Regions from separate parts of the Homo sapiens genome. Here regions 1, 2, 3, 4, 5 and 6 are each linked to region 7. The links come from fine-mapping of genetic effects on gene expression. A gene starts in region 7. Each other region holds a variant in brackets. All regions are shown on one strand. Distances are between the middles of the regions. Region 1 holds the start of VSTM2L (V-set and transmembrane domain containing 2 like). Region 2 overlaps DLGAP4 (DLG associated protein 4). Region 3 overlaps CTNNBL1 (catenin beta like 1). Region 4 overlaps SAMHD1 (SAM and HD domain containing deoxynucleoside triphosphate triphosphohydrolase 1). Region 5 overlaps SAMHD1 (SAM and HD domain containing deoxynucleoside triphosphate triphosphohydrolase 1). Region 6 overlaps MROH8 (maestro heat like repeat family member 8). Region 7 holds the start of SAMHD1 (SAM and HD domain containing deoxynucleoside triphosphate triphosphohydrolase 1).

The links.
Region 1: its variant is fine-mapped to the expression of SAMHD1 in whole blood (INTERVAL, PIP 0.98).
Region 2: its variant is fine-mapped to the expression of SAMHD1 in whole blood (INTERVAL, PIP 0.95).
Region 3: its variant is fine-mapped to the expression of SAMHD1 in whole blood (INTERVAL, PIP 0.98).
Region 4: its variant is fine-mapped to the expression of SAMHD1 in whole blood (TOPMed, PIP above 0.99).
Region 5: its variant is fine-mapped to the expression of SAMHD1 in whole blood (INTERVAL, PIP above 0.99).
Region 6: its variant is fine-mapped to the expression of SAMHD1 in whole blood (INTERVAL, PIP above 0.99).

Annotation. Positions count from the first base shown.
Region 1 is chr20:37,901,711-37,905,776 of GRCh38, forward strand. VSTM2L (V-set and transmembrane domain containing 2 like) reads left to right here and starts at 1,417. Exons shown (of 4, transcript NM_080607.3): 1 at 1,417-1,761. The coding sequence starts at 1,641. All of the region lies in intron 2 of LOC124904896 (a long non-coding RNA gene), which reads right to left. RefSeq lists an enhancer at 717-1,680. The variant C/G (reference allele first, on the strand shown) is at 1,639.
Region 2 is chr20:36,413,633-36,417,698 of GRCh38, forward strand. The region is part of intron 2 of DLGAP4 (DLG associated protein 4); the gene reads left to right. Among named protein-coding and RNA genes, the nearest start is that of DLGAP4, 110 kb to the left of the region's middle. The variant G/A (reference allele first, on the strand shown) is at 1,889.
Region 3 is chr20:37,758,413-37,762,478 of GRCh38, forward strand. All of the region lies in intron 5 of CTNNBL1 (catenin beta like 1), which reads left to right. Among named protein-coding and RNA genes, the nearest start is that of CTNNBL1, 66 kb to the left of the region's middle. The variant A/C (reference allele first, on the strand shown) is at 1,562.
Region 4 is chr20:36,907,621-36,911,686 of GRCh38, forward strand. It overlaps SAMHD1 (SAM and HD domain containing deoxynucleoside triphosphate triphosphohydrolase 1), which reads right to left. Exons shown (of 16, transcript NM_015474.4): 11 at 3,598-3,713. Among named protein-coding and RNA genes, the nearest start is that of TLDC2, 34 kb to the left of the region's middle. The variant G/A (reference allele first, on the strand shown) is at 2,401.
Region 5 is chr20:36,924,345-36,928,410 of GRCh38, forward strand. SAMHD1 (SAM and HD domain containing deoxynucleoside triphosphate triphosphohydrolase 1) reads right to left here. Exons shown (of 16, transcript NM_015474.4): 6 at 2,838-2,908. Among named protein-coding and RNA genes, the nearest start is that of SAMHD1, 25 kb to the right of the region's middle. The variant G/A (reference allele first, on the strand shown) is at 1,614.
Region 6 is chr20:37,151,990-37,156,055 of GRCh38, forward strand. It overlaps MROH8 (maestro heat like repeat family member 8), which reads right to left. Exons shown (of 25, transcript NM_152503.8): 9 at 3,074-3,178. Among named protein-coding and RNA genes, the nearest start is that of RPN2, 25 kb to the right of the region's middle. The variant C/T (reference allele first, on the strand shown) is at 1,837.
Region 7 is chr20:36,949,647-36,953,712 of GRCh38, forward strand. It overlaps SAMHD1 (SAM and HD domain containing deoxynucleoside triphosphate triphosphohydrolase 1), which reads right to left and starts at 2,062. Exons shown (of 16, transcript NM_015474.4): 1 at 1,790-2,062. The coding sequence starts at 1,997. RefSeq lists a silencer at 1,557-1,776.

The DNA.
Region 1 (4,066 bases), 950 kb after region 7:
GGCTGGACGCGGGATCCACCTGTGTTCTGGAGTGGGGAGTGGGCTGTCGGAGGGGTTGACCCTGTTCGACGGGGACGGGGAAGAAAGTCTGAGGGTCTGTCCACGGTGTGAACCCTAGCATCAAAGGGCCAGTTGAGACGCTGTCCACGGTGCCCAAAGGATGGGCCCGGGTGGGGCGGGGGGCGGGGGGCGGGGGGGGGGCTGGCGCTGTCCTCCTCCGTGGTGCTGAAACCGGGAGGACCAGGCTGTGTGAGCAGGGAGGCCTGGGGAAGGGCAAGGGATGAGAGCAGGAGGGACCCCGCCCAGGAGTCAGGGGCCTCGCCCGACTCGCCGTGGGACCTCAGAGAAGCTAATTACCTGATTTCAGGCGCTTCCTTATCTTTTAAATGGGACCACAGTTCCGCCCTCCTGTCTGTCCCATCAGCCCCAGTAACACGGCTTGGGAAGGAACTGGAGGACTTTGTTGGATTCTTGCTCTTGGGAATGGGAATGGTGCCCTATCCCCCTCCCCTGCCACACTCACACACACATACACCCACGCATACGCGCGCGCACACGCACACGCACACACACACTCATGCACACACACACCATCAAGGCTCATTGGTCTAGGGAAGGAGCCTACAGTCCAGAAGGGGGCGATCCCATCCACCACATAAGGTCCAGTATCTTCAAGAGCCAGGAGCCGCAACAACTAACTGGCCTGTCTCTCTCCCATTACAAAGACTCGAAAACTGAGTCCCAGAAAGGGGAACACCGACAATAATAACTACTGAGCTCCTACCACGTAGGCAGCATTATGCTAAGCGCTTTGCATGCACGATTTCGCAAATCCTCACCAGGACCCCCGCAGACAGCTATTACCCCTATTTCTCAGATGAAGACTTCGAGGTTCAGAGAGGGGTAGACACCCGGACGCGATCACACAGCGAGCCGAGGTCGGCGGCAGAGCTATCACCAGGTCCCCTGGGTCTCAGCCCAGGCTCCCACCCTACCTCGCCCTCACCCCCAGCCCCACTGGCCCCTGACCCCGGCCCCGCCCTGCCGGTAAAGTTAGGAGCCTCTGAGTGCGCTGGCCTGGCGGCGGGTGCCCTGGCTTTTCTCCCTCTCCCCGCTGGACGGCATTTCTGTGGCTGAAGCCCGTTGGGTCGTGCTTTGCGGGAACCGCGTCCCTGGGGTGGCTCTCTCCGCCCCATCCCGGCCCCGCCTCCGCACTCGGGCGGGGGAAAGTTGCGGGTACCGCTTTAAAAATCCCAGCCTGGGCAAAACTTTGATGATAAATCAAGCGGCAGATCCCTCCGCCGCCTGCTCCGAGCGGGAGGAGGGAGGGGAGGAGGGAGGGGAGGAGGGAGGCGGGAGGAGGGAGGAGGGTGCGGCGGCGGCGCGGCGTGGCCTTCCGCGGAAGGGAAGAGTCCCGCAGTCGGAGGCGGCCGGCTGGGCGTGCGCTCGCTCCCCGAAGCCGGGGCTGGGCCGGAGCCGGGCGAGGGCTGGGAGCTGGGCCGGGTCCGGGGACAGCGGGCGAGGGGCAGCTGCCGGAGCCGGGCAGCCAGGCCGCTCAGGGCAGGGGACAGCTGGCGCCGGTTCTGCGGTCTCCGGGGCCCAGATGTGAGGCGGCGGCGCCCCCGGCCCGAGAGCGCA[C/G]GATGGGGGCCCCGCTCGCCGTAGCGCTGGGCGCCCTCCACTACCTGGCACTTTTCCTGCAACTCGGCGGCGCCACGCGGCCCGCCGGCCACGCGCCCTGGGACAACCACGTCTCCGGCCACGGTGAGTTCGGTCGCCGCCCCCGCGGACTTCCCCACCAAACCCCAACCCGGGCCGCGCCACTCCAACTTGGCCGCCCCGGGGCTCGAACCGGCGCCAGTCGTGGCGGGCATCCCGGGGCGCCCCCTGCCGGCGCGGTGGACCCGCCCTGGCACCCTGGCCCTGCAGAGAAGGGGGCACCCGGGGCGCACCCCCGAACCTCCTCCCCACACACTCGCGCGGATACGCACACCTGCATGGCCACACCGATATGCACAGCCGCGGACACACTCAGAGCCACAGTCGCTGCTTTCTCACACTCACAACTCCTACCCTGCACATCTCCACACACCTCAGGTCCCCCTCCTCACTGCAAGCCTTTACACTTATGCCCACTACACACGCACATCAGGCACTGCGCCGGTGGGCTCACTCTGCCAGCTGGCGCACACGCTTCGCCACAACTCTTGCCTGCCCACCTGCAGACACACTGGTGCGCGCGCGCGCACACACACACAGGCACACACATACACACACATGAACACAATTTGCTCACCCACTCCTCTCTGCCCATCTGCCTTTACTCTTCTGGGTTTAACCGCACAGAGGCCCTTGTCCTCTTCCTCTCCACACCCAGCCCTATACCACTGGAAAGGTCCTTGGGGGCAGAAGACCTTGTTTCTTGAGAACTGGTCGCCTGGGGCTGCAGCCTCCCAGTTGGGCGGGTGGCACCTGGTGGAAGCCCCTCAGAGCCACCGGAGTAGTTGGGGTTGCTGCTTGCAGCCAGAGGCATGGGAGTGGGAGTGGAAGTGGAATGCCGGGTGCTTTTGTCTGCCTCTGGGGATGGGCAGGAAGCCGTGCCATCCTTCCATAGGGTACCCCCATCCTCATCCTCGGCCCTAGAGGACTGAAATGTGGGAAATCTCAACTCCAGCCGCTGTGGAAGCCGGGGAGCAGACAAGCATTCCCAGCACTGGCTGGCTGAGTGTCAGAAGCTCCTGCTAGCCCCGAAGGAGCCCAAGTTGGCAGCAGAGTTGGACTGTATGAGCCCGGCAGCTGTGGGGGCTCCCCCTGACCCCTGTGAGCCTGGCTCTGGGATGGAGGCTCGAGCATAGATGAAACCAAAGGAGACCTTTCTTCCATGCAGCCCTTCACTAGACAGGCTGACAGCCTTGTTGGGGAGGCTGCAGCCCCAGTGCTGGGCACTGTGGGCCCAGGGCTGTGGGGAGGTTTGCACAAAGGCCAGATAATTGGATGATTTATTCTGATGGGAGTGAGTGGGGGTAAGGCAGGGTAGATAATCAGGGAAGGTTTTGCTGGGGTATGACACATGAGTGGGATTGCTCCAGTGGAGAGGGGGGCTTCGAAGCCATCCTCAGGGTCTCTGCTTTTTGGGAACCATGACTCCCCGCCCCCTTCTGCCTCACCATGTTTGGTAGTAACTGCTGTGTGCATCATTTACATACCCTTCATGCCCCTCACCTCATTTCTACCGACCTGGCTAGAGCGGTGGTAAATAAGGAAAGGGTTCTTTTGATCCTCAACTTACAGATAGGGAAACCAAGGCTCAGAGAGGTGAAGGAAGTTGCCCAAGGTCACACAGTAAGAGAGTGACTGAGCCAGGACAGGCCCCAGGGTCTGTCAGGCAAAGACAGCGCTTTTTTCCAGGACATTCATCTCCCTGTCAGATTCCCTCCCATTCTAGGGAAACTGGGAATTCCTCCCTCTCCACCCCTCCTCTCCTCGCTCCGCTCAGTCCCTTGGCACAGTTGGAACTTACACTAGGAGGGGTTTCCATGGAGGGCCTTCCCTGAGTTTGCAGTCCCGAGGGGTATGAGGAATGGGACTCTGAGGCTTATGGTCGTTCTGTCCCTAGAGCACCAGACCCCAGGGACTTGGGTGCCAGTCTGTTATTCCCAAGGCCCCAAGGTGGCTCCCCCCCATAGAAAAGCAGGGTCTGTCTGCCCTTTGTGTGACAGTCTCTACCTGTCCCCTGGTGCCAGGTAAGCTGAGGGGGCACAGCTCTGCCCAACCAGCTGTAATCTCCCCTCTGCACCCTGGAAGGTCAAGCTAAGGCCCAGGACAGGGGCTAGATGAGAAGGAGGCACCCCTAGTTGCTGGGGAACCTGGCTTCTCTCCTGAAACCCCCGTGTGGCTCTGGGCAAGTGAGCCACCCCTCTGGGTCTCCCTGTGTCCCTAAAGAAACAAAGAAGCCAGGCTGCTCTGCAGGGGCCAGGCTGCCTTCCCCCGACATTGCCAGGTTCAAAGTCACCAAGTAGTGACTGCCGAGGAGCCCCCACAGCTGCCCCTCTGCCGTGCCAAGCACCCG
Region 2 (4,066 bases), 540 kb before region 7:
ATGGTCTTGAGCTCCTGACCTCGTGATCCACCCTCCTCGATCTCCCAAAATGCTGGAATTACAGGCATAAGCCACCGCGCCCGGCCTATTCTGGACATTTCATATAAAGGGAGTCCTACCTTAGGTGGCCTTTGCCTCTGGCTTCTTTCACTGAGCATGTTTTTGAGGTTCATTCCTGCTGAGACATGGATCAGAACTTCATTCCTTCTTATGGCAGAATAATATTCCATTGTATGGCAAGTGAAGTGTCTGATACATGCTTCCCATGTTAAGAAACCAAGGCTCAGAGAGGCCAGCTGACATGCATAGGGTCACACCATGGGGAAGAAGTAGAGTGAGATTTATACCCAGGTCAAATAGGGTCCAGACCTGTTCTCTTCCCCCTTTAAGGATGCCTGGTTTACAAGCTCTTTCCTATCCAGCTGGTCCCGTTTGCCCCTCACAAGAGCCCCACACCGTTGGGATAATCATCTCCAGTTTCAAATGAAGAAAACTGAGATGAAAAAGGTGACTTGCCTGAGGTCACAAGGTGAGTTAGCCAGGACTGGGGTCCCAGCCCCCACAAGCACAACAACAAACCCTGCTTGAAAACAGCAGCCAAGGGGGTGATCCTGGTCCATCCAGACCCTGCTGGAATGGGAAGGCGGAAAGATGAGTGCCTGCGTCGTCCCCCTTCCCAGCCCTATAGTTGTCCCAGTGGTGACCTGGAGAGCCATCTCTAGGGCTGATCGGTGCCCGCCCTGCAGCTGTGGCCAGCTGTCCCCCACCAGCTCTTCTGCAAGGCCCCAGGAATGTCCATACCAGGGTGGTTTTTGGTATTTATTCATCAGCAAAAAGTTGTTTCTGTTGACTAGCACTTCTCCAAGCATGGCCAGGCTGCTGATTCTCCAGCCTGAGTGTGCAGAAAGCTCAGGATCAGGAGAACTGAGCCCTCCACCTGCTGTGTGACCTTGGGCAAGTGTCAGCCCCTGCTTGAGCCCAGTTAGCAAAGTGGAGCGTGAGAGAGTTGGATCAGACATGAGAGGTTTGGTGCTGGGTGACATTCCACAACTCACAGGCTTTAGAGAGTATTCCATGGGGGCTCCAGGGGGCAGAGGCCCTGTTCCTGTCCCCCTCCAGTTCCATGTAAGCCTCATGGGAAATGGCCACTAGCCATTTGTGGCCACTGGGCACTTGAAATATGGCAAATGCAACTGAAATTTTAAATTTAATTCTATTTAAGTTTAATCATATGTATAGAGCAAGTCTAGAGAGTTGTGCTCTGGGAATGCAAGGAGGGATGAGGGCCATGCAGAAAGAGCTCACAGCCCAGAACATACCCAACCTTTGTTGGTTCAAAACCTCCAGAGAGGGCTGGGCACAGTGGCTCATTCCTGTAATACCAGCACTTTGAGAGGCCAAGGCAGGTGGATCACCTGAGGCCAGGAGTTTGAGACCAGCCTGACCAACATGGTGAAACCCCGTCTCTACTAAAAATACAAAAATTAGCCAGGCATGATGGCACATGCCTGTAATCCCAGCTACTCAGGAGGCTGAGGCATGAAAATCGCTTGAACCTGGAGGTGGAGGTTGCAGTGAGCCAAGGTTGTGCCACTGCACTCCAACCTGGGTGACAGAGTGAGACTCTGTCTCAAAAGAAAACAAAACAAAACAAAAACAGAAACAAAACAAACGAAAACGTCCAGAGAGCGCTGGCCTAGGAGTCCAGAGGTCTGGGTACAAATTGCAGCTGCCACCAATATGTTGTGTGACTAGGCCAAATCTCAGTCCCTCTCTGAACTTCTAGATGGCTAAATAGAGACAGTGCCCGGCCCTGTCTGGCTCTAGAGCCCATCCTTCCTCTAGCACCCTGACCTCCTTGTGTAGGTGGGACTCATTGTTAGGGATA[G/A]TAACAGCAATACTTGCGTATTTGCTGTATGCCAGCCTCTGTGCTGAGAACCATCTGTCTGTGTTACCTCGTTGATCTCTCCCAACAACCCTTTGAGGACACTGGGGCTCAGGGAGGTTAGGTAAGTGGCTCAAGGTCACACAGCAAGTAAATGTTGGCACCAGGATTCAAACTCAAGAAGGCTGGCTCCAGAGCCACATTCCCAGCCTCCACGCCATACACACACATACACTATCTCCAGGGGCAGGCTCCTACTCAACCTCCCCTGGGGCCAGCAGAGGGAGTGGCACTGAAGCCTGGAATCTCAAGTGGTGGTCCCCAGGTGAGGCCTGGAGATGGAGGGGAGGGGCCAGCCATGATCATCATCAGGATCACCCTCTCATCCCCTCAACTCAGACTTTTCCTAGGTGAGGATGGGGGAACCTGATTCCCCAGGGGTTGAAGGGGTCTTGGCTTGGGAGTCCAGGGAAGAAGCTCAGACCAGACTCATATGCTTTATGTCAGCCACAGACCTGTCTTCCTTTGCTGTATGTCCCCATGGTCCTTTATGCTTGGGATGAGCGTATAATTCATTATCTAAGCCATGACTTATTTATTTATTTACTTACTTATTTATTCGGAGATGGAGTCTTGCTTTGTCGCCCAGGCTGGAGTGCAGTGGCATGATCTTGGCTCACTGCAACCTCCACCTCCCGGGTTCAAGCGATTCTCCTGCCTCAGCCTCCCAACTAGCTGGGATTACAGGCATATGCCACTGTACCTGACTAATTTTTGTATTTTTAGTATAGACAGGGTTTCACCATGTTGGCTAGGCTGGTCTCGAACTCCTGACCTCAAGAGACCCACCTGCCTTGGCCTCCCAAAGTACTGGGATTACAGGCGTGAGCCACGCACCCGGCCTAAACCATGACATTTTTGAGAATGAAACAGCACTAACCATCGGGGACTCCAGGACAGTTGGTGGAACCCGGGCGAACCAGGATGTCTGTCGCCCTCTCCATGCACCACCATGTATAGAGGGCCAGCTCTGTACAGAGTCGTTGCTTCTGGCTCAGAGGGACACTTAGGTTAATCTGTGACTCCTCAGGTGGGAGCTCCCATCATGGGGAACCCAGAGGAGGCCTTACCCCCGACTTTTAAGGTCAGGGAAGATTTCTTGGAGCAGGGTGTGTCTTCTCTGAGCTTCAAGGATTTTAAGCAGGGAAAGGCTTGGCTAAGGATAGGGTGTTTTAAGGAATGTTCTCAGGAACAGAAACGCCAGCCTAGCCTGTGTGGGATTCAGACATGGAGAAGAAGCAAAAAAGAGGTGTGGAGAGGCCTATCCATCAACTCCCTTCTCTCCCATCGGGCAGCTGCAGCTCTCCAGCTCCCCTCCCTTTGAGGCTCTGTCTGACTACCTCATTCATTGAACAAGTGTTGATTGTGCACCTACTAGGTGCCAACTCTACGCTTAGCACCAGGGATAGAGTGGAAAATGAAACAGGTGCGGTCCCTCCCCTCTTGGAGCTCACAGAGCGCGGGAGGCACTAATCAAGTATGTGAGGAGCCAAGCAGGATAATCAGAGACCCTGGTCAGGTTTGGAAAACAATCAGGAGGGGTGTTGAGAGAACGCAGTGGGAGGGAGGTGACTTCTAGACACAGGGGTCTGGGGTGGCCTCTGAGGAGGTGACGTTTAATCAGGGATCTAAATCAATAGAGGCAGCCGAGTATGTGAAGTGTTGAGGGGTGGATGGAACAGCATGGGCAAAGGCCCCATGGCAGGCAAGAGCTGGGAGCGCTGGGGAAGTAACTAAGGAGGAGACTGGCATGGCTTTGGTGGGCTGAGCAGGCTGGAGTTTGAGTTTTGTTTTTGTTTTTGTTTTTGTTTTTGTTTTTTCTGAGTTAGGGTCTCACTCTGTTGCCCAGTCTGGAGTATAGTGGCACAATCACGGCTCACTGAAGCCTCAACCTCCCAGGCTCAAGCAATCTTCCCGTCACAGCCTCCCAAGTCACTAGGACTACAGGTGTACACGGCTACACCTGGCCAAATTTTTTTAATGTTTTGGAGCGACAGGGTCTCACTATGCTGCCCAGACAGGTCTCAAACTGCTGGGCTCAAGTGATCCTCCCACCTTGGCCTCCCAAAGTGCTGGGATTATAAGCATGAGTCTCCGTGCCCGGCCTGAGACGAGTTCTGC
Region 3 (4,066 bases), 810 kb after region 7:
GCCTTACATGTGAGGAAACCCAGCTGCAGAAGTGAAGCCTCCCGCTGGGTCGCTCAGCCCGTCCTGTGACAGCTGATAAAAGAGACTGCATGTTCTGATCCCCAACACAATTCTGTTTCCACTGCCCCAGATTCCCCAGTTCACTGGTGATCAGAAAGGGCCACAAAGCTGCAAAGGCACCCCAGCTGGCCAGCGGCAGAAGTGCATCTAGTCCAGCCCCTACCCTGATACCACCTGTGGAGCTCTGTCCACCTGCAGAGCTGTATCCCTCCTCAAGGCTCTGTGGATTGTTCTTCTTCTGTTGTTTCTCTTGTCTTTTCTCTCTGGTAAGAATGTTAGTATTGGTTTTGACTCAGTTAGCAGTTGATCAAAGATTACTCCAGCCACTAGTATTAGAAGCACCTGGGCTGCTTGTTTGGCTACTTTCTAGTCCTACCCAAGACCCACTGAATCAGAATGGCTGGGCCTGGGGTCCCAGATGATCCCGAAACCCCACTGCTACACTGCCCACCCCCTCCTCACCCTTTCTCATAATGTTCTCGACACTAGAAATTTCCCATGTGCCGTGCTTGCTGTTGGCATTTGGTGTGAATGAAGGGGTTGTGAACCCACTGGTTATGAAGAACTGGCTCTTACAGAGAGTGAGGCTAGTGTCCAGCAGGGCCATTTATGACCGAATATAATGAAAATTTCTATGGCCATTTTTCTTTCAGGCTCCTTTAGAGAGCAAACTGCTACTTTTGTAGAATTCAGGGCATTTATTTTTCGTTTGAACCACTGTGCAGAAAGAAGAGGATGATGTTGGGATGTCGTTTTGTTTTGAGGGGCGTCTGAGGAAAGACTGTGGCACTTGCTCCTACTCTGTGTCCCTGCAGTGTCGTTTGTGCAGTCTTACCTTCCAGAGGTTAATTACATGGCCCTGAATGAGCCTTCCTGCTTGGTCCCTGGGCTGATTTTAATTACCATCCTTTGCCTGTCTGAATAGGGAAGACGAGAGAGGAACAGCTAGCCTGGCTGTTGCATGTAAAACATACCCAGAAACAGCAATTCACTCAAAAGCCCCCTTTGTTTTTTCTGTGTTGTCAAGCCCACTGACAAAAGCTGCATCTTGGCAGATTTTATTGTTTGTTTGGAAAGAAACAGTTCACCCTCAGTCTGGGGAGCCACTAGGTAACTGCTATACAGGATGTTCTGTTTGTTTAGTTTAGTTTTTATTTTTATTATTATTATATTAGTTTAAGATTTTGACTCTTACAGGTTTATCCTGGTGGGGCTGGTAGGAATCACAAGCATTGAACATTCCTGGACTCCAGTAGATTATTTGCTTGTCTGCAACCAGTCGGAAGTCATCAGTAAATATCAGAGAACAGAACCAGCGGTGGTCTTCCATTTACTTTTTTTACTCTTGGCTGCATTCAGGAAGAAATTTGATAAGTACTCTCATATTACAAGGGTTGAGTTGTCTTTGTAGTTTTAATTTGAGGCCAATATCTGAGGCCTAGAATTGCACGAGCAGAGGCTAGAGGGCATGTGGCAGAATTTATTGTGGTGTGCAGTTTGC[A/C]GTTATTGCTTTGGTCTTTTTCCCAGTTGGAAGTCCTAAGCAATAGGATGGCACATTTGTGGGGAAAGAACACTGTCCTGGCATTCTCAGGGATCTTCGGGGTTTTAAAATTTGGTTCATATCCACTGCTGTTACTTACGCAAAAGGCAAATATTTGTGCTTTGTAACAAGTTGATCTGGTAGCCTGGAAAATGGACTCTTTTCTGAAGAGTGGTAAGCGAGAGGGTATATTGCTTTGATGGCAATTCTCTGGCTTACCTCTCCAAAGATGACTTTGGACTTCTTGAGAATGATGATTAAATTACAGTCATTTTTCTACTTGCCAGTCCCCAAACTTGCCATGTGCTAGGTAGTCCCATGCCTTCGCTCATGCTTTGCCTTCCACTTGCCTAGCCTTGCTTCTCTGGGGCTACCTGGAATACTACCTCTCATCCCTTTATCTCTTCCCTTTTGAGTTTTTTCCAGACTCATCACCTCAGCAGGATGTGTTGTTCTAGCACTTTGTACATTCTGGCACTTGTCACATTGGATTATAGATGTCTGTTTATAAGTTTGTCCTTCCTGAGGTGTGATCCCCGTCAGGGGAGTGGTCAGAGCAGTGACTTTGTCATTTACCAATTCTGTGTCCTTGGGAAAGTTACTAACCTCTCCATACTGTTTCTTTCTCTGTAAAATGGAGATAACAGTAGTGCCTATCATACAGTACCAAAGTGATGAACAAGTGAGATATTTAATAAGTCTTTAGAACAGTCTGGCACAGAGTAAACACCTGATAAATGTTGGCCATTATCATTATAAAGGTACTATGCCTGGCAGATATTAAGCATTTAGCAAATGTCAGGTTAAAATTGTATGTATCATCTACCACACAGTGAGATGTCTGTGAATATTGAGTTCACAAACATTTTTTTCAGTTTAAAAAATATTTCAAAAACATTTTGAACAAACACTCAATAAAACCACATTTGGATGGGGTGGGCCTAAATAAGAAATGAGAGGATAGAGCTTTAGTTTAAAAAAAAAAAAAAAGGAAGAAGTAAGTAATGATAATACAAGGCAGAACATTGAAAACAGCTATGAGAGGGGCAGTGTTCTGTGGACATGAAGAGAGAGTGCTCGCTTCTGATGGAATAATCAGGAAGGGCTGCAGAGATGCAGGCATCGGTGATGGCCTCTGAAAGGGGGCTTTAATATGAGAGCATATGGAGGTGTCCCAGCCAACAGAGATGGAAGTGTGGCTGGGTGGTGTAGCTGGCCAGTGTCTAGGAGCCAGCATTTGCTTTATAGAAACGCTTTATAGAGTTCCACAAAAAGTGGCTTTGATGTGGACTGCCAGGGGACTACCCTCCATACTCATTCCTGCACTAAATTAACTCTACTGAAATGTTAAACTTTGAAGCCCTATCTTGGTTTGCCTTGGACTTGGTTGGCAATGGATTTGTGCTGCCCAGGTGAGGCTGAGGTTGGCCAGGTTTATGTTGCTGTAAGGGTACTTACTATGAAAATTCCTGGATTCTATTCCTTCCCATTTCCATTCATGTTCTCACCTTCATCTGTATTTGTTCCAAAGCAAAATTCATTTGTTCATTTGTTCACTAAATGTTTATTGAATGCTTGATGTGTTCCTGATTGTAGGAACCAGCTATATAGCTGTGAGCAAGCCTGACAAAGCCTCTGCTTTTGTGGAGCTCACAAGGTATGAGTGTAGGGAGAGACAGTAGATACATAAACAAGAAAACTATCAGAGAGTGGTTCTCTGTTTAAGAGAATTAAAATAGAGTGATGTGATGTAGAGTAGCTGGGAAGTCAGGTTGGATTAAATAGTCAGGCAAGGCCTGAGTTCTGGAAGAAACCAGCCATTCAAAATGATCAAGAGCAGGATGGGAAAAGGGCAGAAGACCTAAGGCAAGACTGAGGTTGACATATTCAAGGAACAGAGAAGGGGCCAGTCTTGTTAATGTGCAGCTGGGGCGAGGGGAGAAAGCAGAGTCAGGGCCAGACCACGCTGGGCTCTGTGGGCCTTGGTGAAGAGGTTGGGTGGCATTGCCAGGGTGAAGGGAAGTAATTAGAAGATATAAGCAGGGGAGTGGTGTCATAGCCTGACAGCATTTTAAACAGAGCATCTAGCTGCTGTGTGGATAATGGACTGGAGGGGCAAGAATGGAAGCTAAAAGGTTACAGCTAGGATACAACAGGCCTGAGTTTTGCATTATGACCATGTTACCATATTATTCTCAAAACTTGTTTGATCAAGATTCAGTGGGTGTGGGGTTTTATTGTTATTACTGTGTTTTAAATATGAAATTCCTGAAACTCCTAGTAGGCAGAAAAATCCCAATCTCATTCTTGAGAAAGCTTATTGGCAGATCGTACCAGATAGAAAAAGAAGCCTCCTTCAAACCCTCTCATCTGTCTCTTTTTTATTTCCTCCTCTTCTCTTATATCCATCCTCTTTGGTCAAGTGGAAGATGATGTGTGATCATGCCCTTGAACTTTAACTCCCGG
Region 4 (4,066 bases), 42 kb before region 7:
CCTCCGCCTCCTGGGTGCAAATGATTCTCCTGCCTCAGCCTCCAGAGTAGCTGGGATTACAGGCGCCAGGCTGGTCTCGAACTCCTGACCTCGTATCTGCCCACTTCGGCCTCCCAAAGTGCTGGGATTACAGGCGTAAGCCACCATGCCTGGCTGACTTTTTAAAATATGGCATCACTTGCATTATTATGAATGAAAATTAAAAGTAAATATCTTCAGCTTGTTCAATTTTTTTTTTAACTTTTATTTTACTTATTTATTTATTTTATTTTTGAGAAGGAGTCTTGCTCTGTCATCCAGGCTGGAATACAGTGATGCCATCTCAGCTAATTGCAGCCTCCGCCTCCTGGGTTCAATTGATTCTCGTGCCTCAGTCTCCGAGTAGCTGGGACTACAGGCACCCGCCAGCACGCCCAGCTAATACTTTGTATTTTTAGTAGAGACAGGGTTTCACCATGTTGGTCAGGCTGGTCTTGAACTCCTGAACTCAAGTGATCCACCTGCCTCAGCCTCCCAAGGTGTTGGGATTATAGGCGTGAGCCACCCTGCCTAGCCTTACATGTATATTTTTAAAGAACAATGTATATAGTTCTTGTAATTTAATTTTTAAATTTTTTCTCTATCATTATTATTATTATTTGATACAGGGTCTCGCTCTGTTACCCAGGCTGGACTTCAGTGGTGCAATCTTGGCTCACTGCAACCCCGGCCTCCTGGGCTCCAGTGATCCCCCCAACCTCAGCATCCTGAGTAGCTGGGACTACAGGCACGCACCACCAGGGCTAATTTTTAAATTTTTTAGAAACAGGGTTTCACCATGTTGCCCAGGCTGGTCTCAAACTCCTGGGCTCAAGCGATCCAACTGCCTTGGTTTCCCAGAGTGCTGGGATTATAGGCACGAGCCACCTTGTCTGGCCTATTATTTATCTTTTGATTGAATTTACTGAAAGGTGTAATGTGAAGTCTGTCAAGTTGAATAATAAAAATTTGGGCTTGTATTTTACATGCCTTTTCCCCCCATTTCATTTTTCTAGTAATTCATTTTTATCATACTTTACAGAAATATCAATCTGCAAGGGGTTGGTAATTTTAAAAACTGGTTCTTCAAACACAGTTTAGGAGGAGCTAGTTTAGGTTTCATTCTGTCAGTGTGCAGCAAATAGAATCCAGCTGTGGTAGAACGGCAGCACTCTCGGCAGGAAGCTACGGTAGAGTGATTAGGCTGTGTCTTAGGTCACTTGGCTTCTGTTGTTTTTCTCCATTTTCAGAGCCTCCAGCCTTTCCACGGATTCTGTAAGCTATGTGATTGCTTTCCAATTTTATTTTTATTTATTTATTTATTTTTATTTATTCATTTTTGAGACAGAATCTTGCTCTGTTGCCTAGGCTGGAGCGCAGTGGTGCGATCTCTGCTCACCGCAACCTCTGCCTCCTGGGTTCAAGCGATTCTCCTGCCTCAGCCTCCTGAGTAGCTGAGATTACAGGTGCGTGCCACCACGCCTGGCTCATTTTTGTATTTTTAGTAGAGACGGGGTTTTACAATTTTGGACAGGATGGTCTCGAACTCCTGACCTCAGGTAATCTGCCTGCCTTGGCCTCCCAAAGTGCTGGGATTACAGGCGTAAGCCACCGTGCCCGGCCCAATTTTATTTTTAGTTAAACAGTTTCATAATTTGTAACTAAGAACTCTGACTGGTGTACACTTTTTGTTCTACTTCTTTTGCTTTATCTCAGTCAATACTTTCCCACATTAAAGAACCAGCTGTGGCTGGGCGCGGTGGCTCACACCTGTAATGCCAGCGCTTTGGGAGGCCGAGGCAGATGGATCATCTGAGATCAGGAGTTCCAGACCAGCCTGGCTGACATGGTGAAACCCCGTCTCTAGTAAAAATACAAAAAAATTAGCTGGGCATGGTGGTGGGCGCCTGTAATCCCAGCTACTCAGGAGGCTGAGGCAGGAGAATCGCTTGAACTCAGGAGGCGGAGGTTGCAGTGAGCCGAGATCGTGCCATTGCATTACAGCCTGGGCTACAAGAGCAAAACTCTGTCCACCCCCCTCCAAAAAAAAAAAAAAAAAAAAAAAAGAACCACCTTTACCCTTTACCTCTCTTTCCTCCTTTCCACACTAAGCTGCAGATTTTGTTTCTGCAGAAGTGTGGACAGATGTTCCTGGCATCTTGTGTTTTTATAATGAAAATAATGTTAAATGGCCAAGTCAGTTTTTTGGTGTTCAATATTAGTCCAGGTATGAGTTAAATAATGACAAGTCTGGGCAACATAATGGGACCCTGTCTCTACAAAAATTAAAAAAATTACTCAGGTGTGGCCGGGCGGTGTCTCACGCCTGTAATCCCAGCACTTTCGGAGGCTGAGGCAGGCGGATCATGAGGTCAGGAGATC[G/A]AGACCATCCTGGCTAACAAGGTGAAACCCCATCTCTACTAAAAATACAAAAATTAGCCAGGTGTGGTGGCGGGCGCCTGTAGTCCCAGCTACTCGGGAGGCTGAGGCAGGAGAATGGTGTGAACCCGGGAGGCAGAGCTTGTAGTGAGCCGAGATTGTGCCACTGCACTCCAGCCTGGGCGACAGAGCAAGACTCCGTATCAAAAAAAAAAAAAAAAATTCCCAGGTGTGGTGGCACATGCCTATAGTCCCAAGTAGCCAAATCAGCTACTTGGCTGAGGCTGAGGCAAGAGGATCACTTGAGCTCCGGAGGTTGAGGCTGCAATAAGCTGTGATGGCACCACTGCACTCCAGCCTGGATGACAGAATAAAATCTTGTCTGAAAATAAATAAATAAAAAAAAATTAAATTTAAAAGTTAAATAATGGGCCGGGCGTAGTGGCTCACGTCTGTAATCCTAGCACTCTGGGAGATGGAGGCGGGTGGATCACATGAGGTCAGGAGTTCGAGAAGACCCTGGCCAATATGGTAAAACCCTGTCTCTACTAAAAATACAAAAATTAGCTGGGCATGGTGGGGCATGCCTATAATCTCAGCTACCCAGGAGACTGAGGCAGGAGAATTGCTGAAACCCAAGAGGTGGAGGTTGCAGTGAGCCAAGATTGTGCCAGTGCACTCCAGCCTAGGTGACAGAGCGAGACTCCATCTCCAAAAAAAAAAAAAAAGTTAAATAATGTATATTGAGTACTTACGTATCAAGTCTATACTAGGTGCTATGCCTCATTTAAACATCACAACAAAACTATATGCTAGGTATCATTACCCTCATTTTATAGATGAAAGATTCAGATAGGTCAAATCCCTTTATCAAAGTCACTTTATTGGTACAAGACAGAAATAAAACTCAAATTCAAAAGGAGATAATTACTTGGGAAGCTAAAATCGTTCCATCGGCTGTGTACAGTGGGTCACACCTGTAATCCTAGCACTTTGGGAGTCAAGGCAGGAAGATCGCTTGAGCCCAGGAATTTGAGAGAAGCCTGGGCAATATAGTGAGACCCTTTCTTTATTTTTTTAAAATTAAATAATTATCTTTAAAAATGAAAAATAAAAGAAAGAAAAATAACTCATTGGCAATTCAGGGACTTCTTACAGTTTATCTGAGATGGACCATCTATGTTACCTGTTACTTCTTACCTGTCAGCTTAGTATAGGCTTCCATGTCGTCAATTGCTGTAGAAATGCGATACTTTTTTCCTCCAGCACCTGTAATCTCTATGTAGTCATCTGCTTTGAGGAAAGCATCTGTAATCCTAAAAATCATTTTGCAAAAATTTATGTTTATGAGAAATTTTGAATATTTGCCTTATGTCTTACTTAAGGAAATCTTTCTACTTTAGGGAAACAAAATAATGAGGCACAGTGTTCTAAAGACAACTGCTTCTCCACCGTACTAAATTTGTGCTTGGTAAGCTGTGAGCTGCCATGCTTACTGTGTTCCAGGCACTGTCGCAGGGCTTTGCATTCACCATCTTATTTATTCCTCCCAACAATAAGGTAGGTGTATTCAGCCCTCATTTTATAGATGCAGAAATGAAGTAAATTTTGATTTAACCAAGTTAGGAAGAAACAGTGCCAGGCTTTGAAACTAGATATCTCTGAATTA
Region 5 (4,066 bases), 25 kb before region 7:
GGAAGGGAAAAAGAGAAAGAATGAGAAAGAAAGAAAGTGAGAAAGAGAAAAAGAGAGACAGAGACAGAAGGGAGAGAAAAGAAAAAAAAAGAAAAGAGCATAAATCAGGAGGAGGAGGTGATCACAAAGAGGAGGTGATAACAAAAGTTGTTAGTCAGGAATGTTCACTGGCTTACAGAAATAACATTAGTTAGTGATTGGCTACATATTATGAAGTACAGGATATATGGCATTTTATGGTTACCTGGCATCCCACATAACAGCTGGCTTCAAGAGATAATAATTATTTAGCTCAAGGGGGCGTGACATGATTGCTGTTCTATTTCAATGCCTCTCTGGGCCTGATAATGTAAAGGGGCTCATATTTCTCAGATAAAAATTTCTTTTCTTCTTTTTTTTTCTTCCCCAAGTAACAAGTGTGGAAACAGAACAGAATGCAGAATGATTCATCATATATGGGAAGTTAATAAATGTTGGGGTTGGTATTACAGTCAGTGGGGATAGGATGAACTATTAAAAAATTAGATTTCTCGGCCGGGCACGGTGGCTCACGTCTGTAATCCCAGCGCTTTGGGAGGCCGATGTGGGTGGATCATGAGATCAGGAGTTCGAGACCAGCCTAACCAACATGGTGAAAGCCATCTCTACTAAAAATACAAAAGTCAGCCAGGTGTGGTAGCACATGCCTGTAATCCCAGCTATTCAGGAGGCTGAGGCAGGAGACTCGCTTGAACCCAGGAGGTGGAGGTTGCAGTGAGCCAAGATCGCACCACTGCACTCCAGCCTGGGCAACAGAGTGAGACTCCATCTCAAAAAAAAAAAAAAAGAAAAAAAAAGATTTCTCCCATATACTTACACAAAAATAAATTGTACACGAGCTAAGGATTTAAATGTGAAAGGCAAAATGCTTAAAGGAATAGATTTGGTAATGATTGAGAAGATCCTATTAGATCAACTGCAGAAGAAAACAACTATAAGCTCTGGACAACTCCCTGAAGGTCCTGGAGAGAGACCAAAACCAAGTGGATGTTAGACCTCAATACTTAGAAGGGAGAGGTGCTGGGTGACATTCCGGTTTTATGGTTTTTTGCCTAAGGGCAGGCCCCAGGACAGAAAAACTGGTGAGAAACTACCCATTTTACTGGCTTGCAGAACCAGAGTACTTCATCAAAATTGAAAACGTCTGTTTTTCAAAAGGCACCATGAAAAAATGAATTGGCCAAGCCAGACACTGGGGAAAAATATTCACAATACATATACCTAACCATATATATACATAAAGAATTCCTACAACTCAGTAATCAAAGAGCAAGCAATCAAACTTTTTAAACGAGTAAAATGTTGAGAGTTCTTTGCAGAAGAAGATATATCAATAACAAAGTACAAAGTACAGGAAATAGTATTCAACATACATTAGAAAATCAAACCATGAAATACCATTTGACACTCATTAGAAGGGCTAATTTGAAAGGTCAAATGTTGATGAGGCTGTAAAACAACTGGAACTCCAGTATGTTGCTGATGGGAGTGTAAAATGGTACAACCGCATTGGAAAACTCTGGTAGTTTCTTATAGAATTAAATACATATCTACCATATGACCCAGCAATTCTA[G/A]CTCCTCGGTATTTACCTAAGTGAAATGAAAATGTATTTCTTTATTTTATCTATTTTTATTTTTATAAAATAATGTATTTCTGCTGAATGTATTTCTTGTTTTAAAAATGTAATTAACTTTCCACACTACAACAACATAGAAAATGTATTTCTACCAAAATCTTGTACGATAATATGCACGACAACCTTATTTATAACAACCAAAACCTGAAAACAATCCAAATTCCAACAAAACAAGAAAGGGTAAACAAATTGTGACTTATTTGCATAATGCCACACTACGTAGGCGATAAAAAAAAGGATCAACTACTGAGGCACATAACATGAACAAATCTCAAAACCATTATGTTGAGTAAATAAAGCAAGGCATAAAATAGGACCTCCTATATGATTCTGCTTAATCAAGTCTAAGAACAACAAAATTCATTTATGTTTGTAAAAATCAGAAGGTGATGGTGGGGTGAGGGGGAGTGAGAATTGACTAGGAAAAAGCACATGGGAATTTTTCAGGAAGATGAAAATGTTCTATATCCTGACTGGGTAATAGTCATATGGATGTATACGCCTGTCAAAACTCACTGAACTTAAGATCTGGACAACTTATTGTATGTGAACTATACCTCAAAAAAAGAGAGAGAGAAAAAAAAAGTGGTTGACATGTAAGAAGTTTTCAATATATATTAATATCCTTTTTCTATTCCCGTTCCAGAAATACAGTGTAGTAAAAACCAACCTAATTTTACTTCTCAAAAATTGATTCCAAAATATGGGACAGCCACCTGCAAATGCCTAATTTTAAAATGATTCATTTAATATATATGACTTGGCTGGTAAGTTAGTTCGTGGTCATACCAAATGTGTCAAAACTGGAGTTGGCCTTTTATTATACAGTAGTACAATGGAGCAGAAGGAGTATTAAACTGGCAACTGGTTTTGTATTGCTGATTCCAGTATTTAACGGCTTTGTGATTTTTGATGCATCAATACACATCCAAGAGTTTCAAGTTCCTTTATTTGTAAAAAGGGAGATAACGATAACTTCCTTACAGACTACTGTGAGAACCAAACAAAAGCATATATATATATATGTGAATGAAAGCACCCTGGACACTGTAATGGGGAAGTATTTTATAACACAGTAGTGGAACCAAACAGATAAATTAACTAAATAACCTGCTTAAATAGTCTTTCTTTTTATTGACTATTGACTGTATGAATACATACCGTCCATTTCACCTCCGGGCGAGCAAGTGGAATAAATCGTCCATCAAACATGTGAGAAAATGGCCCATGACCTTAAAAACAAAAGCAGCCTTAGAACAAGAAAAACATCTGTAAACCAACAAAAACTTTTTCCTTTTTTTTTTTTTTTTTTTTGAGACGGAGTTTCGCTCTTGTTGCCCAGGCTGGAGTGTAGTGGTACAATCTTGGCTCAACACAATCTCCGCCCCCTGGGTTCAAGCGATTCTCCTGCCTCAGGCTACCGAGTAGCTGGGATTACAGGCGTGTGCAACCACATCCAGCTAATTTTGTATTTTTAGTAGAGATGGAGTTTCTCTACGTTGGTCAGGCTGGTCTCGAACTCCCGACCTCAGGTGATCCGCCCGTCTCAGCCTCCCAAAGTGCTGGGATTACAGGCGTGAGCCACCACACTCAGCCAAACTGAATTCTTTAATCTTTTTAGTTTAACTTGAATAGCAAAAGAAATTAATAATCTAAAAATACAATCACAAAAAGGGACAAACCCTTTCTTCCTATTTCTAAAACAGGAGAACAGGAAGCAGAAACATGGAAAAGTAAGCTCTCCATCGAGCAGTCTCCAGTCACCAGGTTTTACATAAATCTGATAAAAGGGCAGTTTTTGTTGTTTTTTGAAGAGACAGAGTCTTGCTATGTTGTTCAGGCTGGAGTGCAGTGGCTATTCACAAGCATGATCATTATGCACTGCAGCCTTGGACTCCTGACCTCAAGTCATCCTCCTGCCTCAGCCACCTGAATAGCTGGGACTACAAGCATGCACCACCACACAGGGCTTGATAAATGGACAATTCTGTGTAACTAAAAAGAATGTTAATGCCAAAAACTTTTTGAAATCTTCAGATTGAAAATATCTGGATTAAAATAGCAGTTTCAAGAAAATCCACTAGGGCCAGGTGTGGTGGCTCATGCCTGTAATCCCAGCACTTTGGGAGGCTGAGGTGGGTGGATCACTTTGAGTCAGGAGTTCGAGACCAGCCCGGCCAACATGGTAAAAACCCTGTCTCTACTAAAAATACAAAAAATTAGCCGGGCTTGGTGGCGGGCACCTGTAGTCCCAGCTACTCGGGAGGCTGAGACAGGAGAATGGCGTGAACCTGGGAAGCGGAGCTTGCAGTGAGCCAAGATCACACCACTACACCCCAGCCTGGGTGACAGAGCAAGACTCCATCTCAAAAGAAAAAAAAAGGGGCTGG
Region 6 (4,066 bases), 200 kb after region 7:
TTCATTCATTCAATCAACCAATAAATACAGTGTCTGTTATATGCCAGGAACTATGACTGGCACTGGGGATATAAGCAGTCAACAAAAGAGAATATCCCTGCTTGTGGAGGTGATGATCTAGTTGGGGAAACACAAAGTAAACAAAATAAATATGTAAAATGTATTATGTATCAAATGATGATAAATGTCATGATTAACAAAAATTCAGGGGAAAGGGATAAGAATTATTATTTTAGGATGGTCAGGGAAGGCCTCACTAATATTGAAATGAGAGATTGATACCTGGGAGAAGAGTATTCTGGGCAGAGAGAATGGCAAGCGCCAAGGACTGAGAAGGTATGTTTGGTGTTTCTGAGGAACCATAAGTAGGTTAGGTTGGCTGCAGCGATGTTAACGATAGGGAAAGAAATAGGAAGTAGATGAAGAATGGGCCAGAAGGTGTCGCAACCTGTAGAACATTGTGAGGACTTTGGCCGTCGGAGGGTCTTGAGCAGAGAAGGGACATGGGTTGACTCACATTTACTCAATCAATATTGAATTGAGCATCAACCACATGGCCGATTCTGTGCTAGGCAGGCACTGAGGCTACTGTGCTGAACAAGACAAGTATAATTGCAAGGCACAGTGGCTCATGTCTGTAATCCCAGCATTCTGGGAGGCAGAGGTGGGAGGATTGTTTGAGCCCAAGAGTTTGGACCACCTTGGGCAATATAGTGAGACCCCCATCTGTATAAAAAACAAAAAAATTAACCAGGCATGGTGGCACATGCCTGTAGTCCCAGCTACTCAGGAGGCTAAGGCAGGAGCATTGCTTAAGGCCAGGAGGTTGAGGCTGCAGTGAGCTGTGATTGTGCTACTGTACTCCAACTTGGGTGACAGAGCAAGACCCTGTCTCACATAAAAAAAAAAAAAAAAGACAAGCATAATCACTGGTAGAATTTACATTCTATTAGTGGGAAACAGATAACACAGCAGTAAAGAAAGAATCAAGCCAGATAACCTCTGATTCTAGACAGCCCTAGGAAGGAGAGAGTGATGAGACAGAGAGCAAGCGTAGGTCTGTCTGTGGTGAGCAGAGGCCCTTTTGAGGTCGAGACATCTGAACACAGTGCTAAAGAACCAGGAGGGGCTGGCTCTGTGCAGAGCTAGGGAAGGTCATTCCAAGCAGAGAAGGCAGCAAGTGCAAAGGCCATGAGGCAAGATGAGCCTTATGTGGGAAGAAGGAAGGTAAAGGTGGCTGCTGTGTGATAAGTCAGGGGACTTAGGTGTAGAGAGGTAGACAGACCTACATCAGACATGACCCCGTATTCTAAGATCAGTTTGGAAATCACTGGATCAAAGAAGTGACATGGGGCAAAAAAAGAAAATGAAGAAAAATAAAGAAAACACAGGGGAGAAAACAAGGAAACAAAACAAAAGCAAGAATGACATGGGTCTGAAGAGGATGACTCTGGCTATATGTAGAGAACAAATTGGAAATGGAAGCCCCCACCCCAACACACTCATGCACAAAAAAGAACTTGGAAGGTGCCAGGCGCGGTGGCTCTGCCTGTAATCCCAGAACTTTGGGAGGCCGAGGCAAGCAGATCACTTGAGGCCAAGGATTCGAGACCAGCCTGGCCAACATGGTGAAACTCCGTCTCTACTAAAACTACAAAAATTAGCCAGGCGTGGTGGCCTGCACCTGTCACTGAATGACAAACAGTTAATAAGTTTTGTTTTTTTTTTTTGAGATGGAGTCTCGCTCTGTCGCCCAGGCTGGAGTGCAGTTGCGTGATCTCGGCTCACTGAAAGCTCTGCCTCCCGGGTTCACGCCATTCTCCTACCTCAGCATCC[C/T]GAGTAGCTGGGACTACAGGCGCCCGTCACCACGCCCGGCTAATTTTTTGTATTTTTATTAGAGACGGGGATTCACCGTGTTAGCCAGGATGGTCTCCATCTCCTGACCTCGTGATCCGCCCACCTCGGCCTCCCAAAGTGCTGGGATTACAGGCGTGAGCCACCGCGCCCGGCCCTAAGTTTTATAATCATAATATTAAGAACCCCCAAACTTTATCAAGACAAAAAAGGCCACTGAAGAATTACGCTCCTAGTTTGATTACTAAATGCTTCTTCAGCATTTCCTTTTTTATTCTTTATTCTTTAGATTTCTTTGAGAATATGAAAAAAGTTAGAGACCCAGATAATATATATTTGTCAAAACTCATTGAACTGTATACTTAAATTGGATAAATTCATTGTATACAAATTATACCTCAATAAAATTGATTTAAAAAAAAACTATGGACCTTCCTCAGAAAAATCCAGAAGAGGACGGGCGTGGTGGCTCACGTCTGTAATCCCAGCACTTTGGAAAGCCAAGGAAGGAGGACCACTTGAACCTGGGAATTTGAGACCAGCCAGGGCAACATGGTGAAACCCCATCTCTACCAAAATAAATAAATAAATAAATAAAAATTAGCCAGGCGTGGTGGCGTGTGACTGTAGTCCCACCTACTTGGAAGGCTGAGGCAGGAAGATTGCCTGAGGCCAGGAGTTCAAGGCTGCAGTGAGCTATGATGGCCCCACTGCACTCCAGCCTGAGTGATGGATCAAGACCCTGCCTTGAATAATGATCATCATAATAATGAGATGCCATAGGGGAGATGATTCAGAACTGAGAAGTGAGAGAGAGAAAGAGAAATGTGAGGATCTGAAGAGGTGCCATAGTACCACTCTCTTTGAGTTGCTGGGAGATATTGAAGTTGATTTATTTAAATTTGCCTGCTGTACTCAAATATAATACTATACAGAGACTAGCCACCATGGGCCTCAGGTATTTTCAGGTTATAGTTACTATATCATTATGTTCCAGCTGTTGTGTTAAGCAATGGAGATGCAAAGATTAATCAACACAGCAACTGGCCCCAAGCTGCTCAGGAGAAGAGCAGATAAGAAGACAATGCTAAGTGCTATGATAGTACATGAGCACGAAGGGGACACAGAACCAGCCTGGGGAGTTATAAAGAGGAGGAGAAATCGGCAGTGAGGGAATGGCTTTGGATCTTTCCTCCTCTGCAACTGAAGGGCCGCTCACCTTCAAGTTGAGATGTTTGGATAGGCACTTCAGAACTTGAGCCATGCTGGCCGTGGCCCGTTCCCGCTCATGGTCTTTGACTGACTGTAACCAGGGGACCAAGTGCTGTGAGAAATAAAGGGAGGCTAAATGGTTTATCAGGAAGATTTGGGATACCATCCTTATTGTGTTTAGAAAGAAATGTGGAGTGACAAGTTCCATGTTGCTACCAGATCTCAAAATACTTTGCTAAATGCTATTATAGCTCAGGTTGGAAATAAAAGTGGTAGAATGACAAGCAAGGCACAAAGACATGGGTGGTGGGTGGTTTGGTTGTTATATAGGAGCTTAGGAGCTTCTTTTCTTTTTTTTTTTTGAGATGGAGTCTTGTTCTGTTGCCCAGGCTGGAGTGCAATGGTGTGATCTTGGCTCACTGCAACCTCTGCCTCCCAAATTCAAGTGATTCTCTTGCCTCAGCCTCTCGAGTAGCTGGGACTACAGGCACTCGCCACCACGCCCAGCTAATTCTGTATTTTTGTAGAGACGGGGTTTCACCATGTTGGCCAGGCTGATCTCGAACTCCTGACCTCAGGTGATCTGCCCGCCTTGGCCTCCCAAAGTGCTGGGATTACAGGCGTGAGCCACTGTGCCTGGCCAGAGCTTATTTTCTAGACTTACTTTCTCTTCAGCCCAATTCTTCAATTAATTATTCTGTACTTCTGAATGTTTTTAGCTCTTTCAAATCTGCTTTGGAAAGAAATAAAGTTAACAACATGCTACTAATTTTAAAGTTTAACTCTGAGGACAGCCAGGTGTGGTTGCTCATGCTTGTAATCCCAGCACTGCCGGAGGGATTATACTGACTGCTTGAGCCCAGGAGTTGGAGACCAGCCTGGGCAACATGGTGAAACCCCATCTTTACAAAAAAATACAAAAATTAGCTGGGCATGGTGGCGTGTGCCTGTAGTCCCAGCTGCTCGGGAGGCTGAGGTGGGACGACTGCTTGAGCCCGGG
Region 7 (4,066 bases):
CTCGGGAGGCTGAGGCAGGAGAATAGCTTGAACCAGGCAGTTAGAGGTTGCACTGGGCCGAGATGGCGCCACTGCACTCCAGCCTGGCGACAGAGCGAGACTCTGTCTCAAAAAAAAAAAAAAAAAAAAAAAAGAATCCAACAGAAAAAGGGTCTTCTTTTATATGATAAAGGACGGGCAAGCAGAAATAAGCAGAATCTTTGGATAGGAACCTGGACGAGCAAGGGAAAATGAGCAGTGTAGCCCAACAGGACAGCATCCTACTGTGGTCAGCCGGTTCTCAAAAGAAACTGACCAGAGGGAGGCATATTCCACTGCTTTAGTGCCTGCCTGGTCAGATCTGGGGGTAAGCAAGAGTTGAGGGGCCCATAAGGGAAGAGAGAAGTCCGAATAAAGTTTGGTCAAGACAAAGCAGAAGCTAAGACATGAGCAATTGGGAACAGTTGGTCAGTTTTTACCAAATGAAAGCACATAGTGTCTTTGATAGCAATAGGTTGTAGGTTTAAGGAACACACATCATTCTGGAGGGTAACGAGTTAATCTACAAACCACTGAAACAGAGAGCCAACCACATTTTGAGACAGAAAATATGGAACTACTTCACTCCACTTGTTGCTAGTCAAAGAAAATAAAGTAATAATCCATCCCAGCAGTGGAGGGAAACGAAAGGGCAAAAGGGGGAAGAAAAAAAAAAAAGGAGAAATGCAATTTCCCATACCCATTCAAGCTATCTTTGGGTCCTGAACCACTAATGTTCCTCCTACCCCAGTTTCCAACCTAGCCAAACAGGGCCCCACCTAACAAATGCAAAAATTTACTAAATTTGCAAATCCCAACCACCAAAGAATCACCTTCCTATTGGACACCTAGAGGATATAAGGCAGGAGTCAAATCTCACACCCACCACAAAAAGTTGAGTAGAATTCACAAGGATGGATGCTTGGATACGAATCAGTAAAATATGATTAAAACTCAACCTAAACACTTCTCCAGGGGATGTGGCCAAACTGTGGCATGCTGGGGATTCAGTGGTCAACTGAACAACCCCAAGGTTCAGATTTTGGAGGGGAACCTGCTTTTAAAGAGCAAAACATGTTCCTTACCATGTTCTGCAAGTGCAGTCAACACACGCCTATCGGGCGCTGCTGGGATGCCAAGGAAGGTGATGGGAATTCAGAGATTAACCAAGCCAGTTCCTTCCCCTTCAGGAAAAGCCTCAATTCAGGGAGGAAACCGAAACCTAAAAGCCCCAGAACATCCTCTGATGTGGCAAGTGTTCAAGGAGCTGCGGTTAGCGCGGAGGGGTCCCGCGAGCCTGGATGACAGCAAGCCGCCCACCAAGGTCTGGGGAAAAATCTCCTTCTAACTAAAAAAAAGGGACCCGAGTCTCGCTTGTCCCGCGCCGGGGTGGCAAGTTAGTGAAGAAACCCACGAGAGTGAGATCCCAATCTACGACTGCCCCTCCCAGGTCCTCAATCCCGGGAGCCTGCTCCCATCCTACGAATCGCCTATCCCAGGCGACCCCATGTCTTCTTCCTCCGCCTCGGGGAGTCAGTCCCGGGAGCCCCATGCCGCAGGCCCTCCTGGGAACCCCCGCCGCAGGGCTCCCTCCCCCGCCTCGGGTCTTCCTTTCCTCGGCGCCCCCAGCGCAGGTCCGCCCTCCCGGGTGCCTCCCGCCGCAGGGCTCGCTCCTCGGCCTCGGTCCTCTCGTGGGGCCCCCTCCCTCAGGGCGCCTGGCCCGCGCCCCAGGTCGCCGCCCTTCGCCCCTCAGCCCCTCCGGAGCCGCTACCTCGGATGTTCTTCAGCAGCACCGGCTCTTCAAAGCCACCGCGCCTGAGGAAGGAGCACACCTGCTCCGGACCCCATGTCTTGTAGTCGGGATGGAGTTCCAGGCCCGGGGACCAGTCTGCCTCTGCGGAAGGGGTGTTTGAGGGGGTTCTCGGGCTGTCATCGCAACGGGGACGCTTGGAGGGCTGCTCGGAATCGGCTCGCTGCATGGCTACACCTGGCGTCCGGCACAGCAGTCAAGAACCTCGGCGCCGGACCCGCGCGCAGGCGCACTGACAGCAGGGCCCTGGCGGGGAGTCCAAGGAGTATTGGCAGCCTATTGGCCTCCTGCGCAGGCTCACTGACAGTTGAGCCCTTCGGGCAGGGCAGCCTAGCGGCTCTTGCCTTGGGCTCCCTGCGCAGGCGCAATGGCAGTCCAGTCGTCCTCAAATCAATCCCGCCAGGGCGCTGGACGTGAACGCGAAAGGGCGTGGCTAGAAGCAGAACTGAGGGCAGTGCTGGTGGAAAGGGGGAGGAAAGAGCGCGCCCGGCACCGCACCCCCAATTAGGGGCTCGTCTAGTGAATTGGGGGTATTCTCCTTCGAATGAGTACACTACCCGCCGCACCTTGGCCGGGTTTCAGATGCCCCAAACTTAAAAGAAGCCTAAAAGGCCGTCAGGCTGCCAGCACCTTCCCAGTGAAGAGGAAAACAGTCAAGGTGCTGAACTGGAAGAACCCGGAATGATTTCAAATGTGACTTGAGGGTGTCTTCATTCCACAGTATTGCTGGTCAACTAGAGGGCCCTGGGATACCTGTTGTCTGGTGTCCACACAGGAGGGGACTTCAGACTTCTTTCCAACTAGAGACAGAGCCCTCCATCCCAACTGCATTCCCAGAGGAAGGAAAGTGGCCAGTCTGATTACTTAAAATTTAACTTCTGAGGACTTTTACTGCCTGGTTGTAACAGCATGTGAAAATGGCAGGCATTTTCCCATCACTTAACCCCTCTGCGGCAGGGCTCAAACTTCCCTATAAATACTGGTCCATGCAATTGCCTGGTAAAAGGACATATCACTATTACTGTTAATAAAGCCAACACACCTTCCCAGCAACCAAGGCATAGACCTGTTTAGGGGGTCAAGGACGAATGAGGCGGAATAGCTTATCATCAAGCAGTATGAACTAGTGGTCTACTGGTGAGCCAAAATATTATTTGCAAACAGAGCTTTACTGTGTGCCAGGCACGGTTCTAAGGGCTTTACAAATATAAAATAATTTTATATTTATACATAATACTAAATGAATTAAGTACATTCATTAAATTATTTAAATATTAAATAATTTTTATAACTTCTAAGGGTTTTACAAATATTGTAAAGTTCTAAGGGCTCTACACATATTACTTCACTTAATTATCACAATTACCTTAGGATGTAGGAAAAAGTAATTTGCCGCAGGTCTTCTTTTTTTTTTTTGAGACGGAGTCTTGCTCTGTTTCCCAAGCTGGAGTGCAGTGGCGTGATCTCAGCTCACTGCAACCTCTGCCTCCCAGGTTCAAGTGATTCTCATGCCTCAGACTCCCAAGTAGCTGGGACTACAGGCGCCTGCCACCACACCTGGCTAATTTTTGTATTTTTAGTAGAGACAGGATTTCACCATGTTGGCCAGGCTGGTCTTGAACTCCTGACCTCAGGTGATTCCCACACCTCAGCCTCCCAAAGTGCTGGGATTACACAGCCGTACCCAGCTGCCCAAGGTCTTACAGCTAGGAAATGATGAAGCCTGTATTCAAACCCAAGAGATGTAACTTGGTTCCAAAGTCCATGGTCTTGATAACTTGCCAACCACTGCTTGTTAAAGGGGGTTTGGGGCTGGGTGCAGTGGCTCATGCCTGTAATCCCAGCACTTTGGGAGGCCAGAGCACTCACTTGAGGCCAGGAGTTCAAGGCCAACCTGGCCAACATGGTGAAACCCCATCTCTACTAAAATACAAAAATTAGCCAGGCCTGGTGGTGCATGCCTGTAATCCCAGCTACTCAGGAGGCGGGGGCACGAGAATCACTCAAATGTGGGAGGTGTAGGTTGCAGTGAGCCAAGATCTTCCCGTTGCACTCCAGCCTGGGCAACAGAGCAAGACTCTGTTTCAAAAATAATAATAATAAAAAATAAATAAATAAGTAAAGGGGGTTTTGATATAAAACTATTTTCTATTATTTAACCCACAATTTTCAATGGCTCCCTTTTCCTGCAGACCCATGGAGGAAAGTATAAAGGTGTTCCTGCCAGGCGCAGTGGCT